2 separate regions of the Homo sapiens genome follow, and region 2 is linked to region 1. Evidence: fine-mapped expression QTL. A gene starts in region 1. The other region holds a variant in brackets. All regions are shown on one strand. Distances are between the middles of the regions.

The links.
Region 2: its variant is fine-mapped to the expression of SYNE1 in fibroblasts (GTEx, PIP 0.95).

Annotation. Positions count from the first base shown.
Region 1 is chr6:152,635,878-152,638,783 of GRCh38, forward strand. SYNE1 (spectrin repeat containing nuclear envelope protein 1) reads right to left here and starts at 1,485. Exons shown (of 146, transcript NM_182961.4): 1 at 1,312-1,485; 2 at 761-928.
Region 2 is chr6:152,489,862-152,492,767 of GRCh38, forward strand. The region is part of intron 11 of SYNE1 (spectrin repeat containing nuclear envelope protein 1); the gene reads right to left. Among named protein-coding and RNA genes, the nearest start is that of SYNE1-AS2, 89 kb to the left of the region's middle. RefSeq lists an enhancer at 688-1,887. The variant C/T (reference allele first, on the strand shown) is at 1,243.

The DNA of each region.
Region 1 (2,906 bases):
CTTCCAGCATCCAAAGTCTGGGATCCCAGTCAGCACACCCAGCCTGCCTTCCCAAGGGGCTTCTTCCTGTGCGGCTGATGGCTGCTTCGTTTTGCACGGATGCCTGCCCGTTGGGATGCACCTGGCCGCCTGTGCACCACCATTTCCCAGAACTCCTCCGCCAGCAATGCAAGATCTCTCTATGTGAAACGTATCTTTATAAAGAGGAGACGAAAGTTCTCTTGCCCTCTAGTGCAGGCTCTGCCGGGAAGCAACTGCACCATGACAGCGCCGCTGGAGTCTGACGCGCCAGGGCCTCCGCGCAGCCTTCAAGCCATTTCCCTCCCCCAGCCCTTCCTAAAATAGTCAGGGGGTGGAGGAAGGGAGGCTCCTAGAATCTGTTCAACGCCCTACCTCTCCCATCTGATAGTAGCAACAGTACCGACCATCACAATAAGAGGCTGGCTGCCTTTTGCTTCTGCACCATTGGAGCCCAGGAGATGTGCCACAAGCGGAAATGACAACTCAGAGAGGGGGATATTAATAGGGACATCTACGTACGAGATGCAAAGAGGCTCCCCAACCTCCTAGTCTCCTTATCTATGAGTATCGCACACGTACACACATCACTGCCACCACCCCCTCCCATCAAGCACGCAGAGCCCCAGCGTGCAGGCACAAACTTGCTGACAATTTGTCTGCAATGTGTTCGTCTTGCACCTCTCTCTCCTCTCCCTGTCTCTGTCTCTCCCTGTCTCCCAGTCTCTGTCTTTCCTTTTACCTTCTCTCTCGGCCTCGTTCAGTTTCCCAGCAGCAAGGCGAAGCGAGCGAACGCTTCCTCCCGGCTCTCTGCGCCCAGGCTCGGCGGGACCCCGGGGATGCGCGGCTGTCCGCCCGCCCTGTCGCCGGGATCGGGCGCGGTCTGCAGGACTGCGGGAGCCCAGCCGCCCTGGTGACAGAGGACAACAATCTCAGCCCGCTGCGGCCGGCGGCCGCGGCCCGGCGCCCGCGCTCACCCTGGCTGGCTCGCCCACACTCACTCCCGCGCCGGGCTGCTCAGCCGCGCTCCCCGCCCTCCGCGACCGGTTCCTCCTCCCGGCTGCTCGCTGGGGGGTGAGGCCTCCCCCTTCGCCCTCCCCCACGCATCTACTGCTCCTGTCGGGAAGGAAGGTCGCCCAGGCCGGTTCAGCCTCTGGGCAGGGTCCCTGCACCGCCCTGGCCCGCCACACCCCCTCCCCGGCTCCGTGCCCCGCGCCCCGCGCCCGGCTCCGGGATGCGCCGGTGCCTGGAAGAGCTGGGGGCGGGGACCCGGAGGCTCGCAGGCTTCCCTACCTCCTGGAGATGCACGGCCTTGGGCGTTTCTCCGCAGCTGCAAAGCTGTGCTGTGACCCACCCGCTCAGCGAGCCTTTATACCGGGACCACCTCCCGGGGGTCGAGGTGGGAAGGAAATGTCCCTGAGAGCCGGGACGCGCTGCCTCCGCTGCCTGGAGGAGCTGCGCTGTCCTGCCAGCTAACTTTTGCCCACGGTTTCCACTGCCCGGGTGACCTTTCTGAGCGGAACCTATCCTGAAAGGCTGGGAGGTTCCCTGATGGTCCCAGGAAGGGCGTGATGCAGAGCAAAGAGCAAAACCCGCTGGCTCCTTTTTCATCAACTTCCGAAAGATCCTAAATCGTTTTGGCTGCCAAGTCAGTAGCAAATAACTTAATTTGAGGGAGACTGGTCAGGCTTTATAGATCTTTTTTAATGTTATGTATAAAGTTTAGACTTCTTGAGAAAGCGCTTGACATCTTTAATTCTTGACTGTTTATTATGATGATTCTAAAAACCACTTTTAGGTTCTTCAGGTGCACTGTATGCACCCTGTACATTGCGGAGCCATTTGTATCTTTGGCCACAAGTCCTTCTCGTGGTGTAAGAGATCTTGGTGTTGCCTGGTAGCATTCAGGAGAATTTATTTTGTTGTGGTTTTATGGTATCCAGGCAAAGTCAAACACAGTCTCTCTTCACCAACAGTGAAGTCCAAGTCCAACAGGATGATTGCAGCTAAAATAATCGAAGCCATGTTGCAATAATCTTAAAAGTAATAATCCCCCCCTTGAATCTCCAATCTGAACAAAACAGTCATTTATCCTCTAAATTTGCTGAAAGGAAGGAGCAGTTTATAAAGTAGATGAAGTTTCTCTTTGCTGCCTGCCTTTCCCTTACCTGCTGCCAACATTCCCACTGCCTAGCTTTCCATTTTCTTCAAATTCTCCTTCTTCTGGATCGTGTCAAAATAATAACATCTGAAACAAATCTGGTAAACCAATCTGATGTGTTCCTCTTCTTTGTGCTGACTTTTGTTTTTTTTTAGAGAGAGAAACCAAACAATGGATCTCTATTTGCAGAACTTGCTACCTCCAAAAGTTGGGCCTGGAGGAGGAGTGTTTGGGATCACTCTCAATGTATGCCCTGCCTCTGCCTGAGGGCAACAATCCTGGGGCACCCCCAGAGCCCCTTGTGGAGACAACCACCAGAGCATAATTATTCCAGGTCAGCCCTCTGTGCCCAGTGGCCACAAAATGGGGTCCAGATTTCCAGGCTTGCCACTCAGAAGAAACAGATCAGAATGGCTCAGCTCACCCTCTCAATCCCTACCTTCATAGAATCAATCCACCCTGCCGGCTTTTGAAGATGGGTAGAAAGTTATTGTGCCAACTTTGCCATTCTTTTTGTTTGTTTGTTTGTTTGAGATGGAGTTTCGCTCTTGTTCCCCAGGCTGGGGTGCAATGGTGCAATCTCGGCTCACTGCAACCTCCGCCTCCCAGGTTCAAGCAATTATCCTGCCTCAGCCTCCTGAGTAGCTGAGATTACAGGGATGCGTCACCACACCTGGCTAATTTTGTATTTTTAGTAGAGACAGGGTTCCTTCATGTTGGTCAGGCT
Region 2 (2,906 bases), 150 kb before region 1:
GAGTTTCTGGCTGAGTGGATGTGGGGTAGAGCCAAAAATCCGTATGTCTAAGTTCCCAGGTGAATCTGATGCTGCTGGTGAAGGAATCATATATTGAGAACACTTCTCTATGATCCTGTGACAACCTCAGCGCTAATATTCACCCAAATGCATTATATAAAGTCAGCCCTCTGTTTTCTTAGATTCAATCAATAGCAGATTGAAAATATTCAGAAAATAAACAATAAAAATAACAATACAGCAATAAAGATAATACAAACAAAATACAACACAGTATAACAGCTATTTAAATAGCATTTACTTTGTGTTAGGTATTATACATAATCTACAGATTAAAGTATATGGGAGGATATGTGTAGGTTATATGCAAATACTACACTATTTTATATCAGGAACCTGAGCATCATAAATTTTGCTATCTTGGGGGTCCTGGAACCAATCACTTGTGAATATCTAGGAACAACTACACAAAATCCTTGTCAGGCCTCTGAGCCCAAGTCTGCACGTATATATCCAGATGGCCTGAGGCAACTGAAGAACCACAAAATAAGTGAAAATGGCTGGTTCCTGCCTTAACCGATGACATTCCACCATTGTGATTTGTTCCTGCCCCATCCTAACTGATCAATTGATCTTGTGAAATTCTTTCTCTGGACAATGAATCTCGGAAGCTCCCCATTCAGCACCTTGTAACCCCTGCCTCTGTCTGCAAGAGAAAAACCCCCTTTGACTGTAATTTTCCACTACCCTCCCAAATCCTATAAAACTGCCCCACCCCTATCTACCTTTTTCGGACTCAGTCTGCCTGCACTTGGGTGATTAAAAAGCTTTATTGCTCACACAAAGCCTGTTTGTTGGGCTCTTCACACGGACACACGTGACATTTGGTGCTGAAGATCTGGGACAGGGGGATTCCTTCAGGAGACCAGTCCCCTGTCCTCACCCTCACTCCATGAGAAGATCCACCTATGACCTTGGGTCCTCAGGCCAGCCCAAGGAACATCTTACCAATTTCAAATCGGGCAAGCGGTCTTTTCACTCTCTTCTCCAGCTTCTCTCGCTACCTTTCAATCTCCCTGTCCTTCCAATTCCAGTTCTTTTTCCTCTCTAATAGAGACAAAGGAGACACATTTTATCTGTGGACACAAAACTCCAGCGTGGGTCACGGACTTGGGAAGACAGTCTTCCCTTGGTGTTTAATCACCGTGTGGATGCCTGCCCTGATCATTCACCCACATTCCA[C/T]TGGTGTCTGATCACTGTGGGGATGCCTGCCTGATTATTCACCCACATTCCACTAGTGTCTGATCACTGTGGGGATGCCTGCCTGATTATTCACCCACATTCCACTAGTGTCTGATCACTGTGGGGATGCCTGCCTGATTATTCACCCACATTCCACTAGTGTCTGATCACTGTGGGGACGCCTGCCTTGGTCATTCACCCACATTCCCTTGGTGGCAAATCAATTGTGGAGACGCCTGCTTTGGCTGCTCACCCACATTACAGCCCAGGGCTGCTCACCACCCCCTTCTCTGTGTCTCTACCTTTCTCTTTAAACTTACCTCCTTCACTATGGGCAAGCTTCCACCCTCCATTCCCCCTTCTTCTCCCTTAGCCTGTGTTCTCAAGAACTTAAAACCTCTTCATCTCACGCCTGACCTAAAACCTTACTGCCTTATTTTCTTCTGCAACACTGCTTGGCCCCAATACAAACTCAACAATGGTTCTAAATGGCCAGAAAACAGCACTTTTGATTTCTCCATCTTACAAGACCTGGATGATTTTTCTTGAAAAATGTGCAAATGGTCTGAGATGCCTGACATCCAGGCATTCTTTTACACATCAGTCCCTCCCTAGTCTCTGCTCCCAGTGCGACTCATCACAAATCTTCTTTCTCTCCTGTCTGTTCCTTCAGTCTCCACCCCAAGCTCTGAGTCCTTTGAATCCTCCTTTTCTATGGACCCATCTGACCTCTCCCCTCCTCACCAGGCTGCTCCTCACCAGGCTGAGCCAGGTCCTAATTCTTCCTCAGCCTCCACTCCCCAGCCCTATAATCCTTCTATCACCTCCCCCTCCTCCCACCCTGTCTGGCTTATAGTTTTGTTCCACGACTAGCCCTCCCCAACCTGCCCAACGATTTCCTCTTACAGAGGTGGCTGCAGCTCAAGGCAGAGTCAAGGTTAACCCTCCTTTTTCTTTATCTGACCTCTCTCAAATCAGTTAGTGTTCAGGCTCTTTTTCGTCAAGTATAAAAGCCCAGCCCAGTTCATGGCCTGTTTGGCAACAACCCTTAGATGCTTTGCCGCCCTAGACCCAGAGGGGCCAGAAGGCCGTCCTATTCTCAATATGCATTTTACTACTCAACCCACTCCCAACATTAGAAAAAGCTCCAAAAATTAGATTCTGGCCCTCAAACCCCACAACAAGACTTAATCAATCTCGCCTTCAAGGTGTACAATAATAGAGAAGAGTCAGCCAAGCGGCAACTTATTTCTGAGTTGCAATTACTTGCCTCCACTGTGAGAGAAACCCCAGCCACATCTCCAGCACACAAGAACTTCAAAATACCTAAACCACAGTGGCCAGGCATTCCTCCAGGACCTTCTCCCCCAGGATCTTGCTTCAAGTGCTGGAAATCTGGCCACTGGGCCAAGGAATGACCACAGCCTGGGATTCCTCCTAAGCCATGTCCCACTTGTGCAGGAACCCACTGGAAATAGGACTGTCCAACTTGCCTGGAAGCCACTCCCAGAGCCCCTGGAACTCTGGCCCAAGGCTCTCTGACTGACTCCTTCCCAGATCTTCTCAGCTTAGCGGCTGAAGACTGACACAGCCCAATCACCTCGGAAGCCTCCTGGACCATCACAGATGCTTTAGGTAACTCTTAGAGTGGAGTGTAAGTCCAT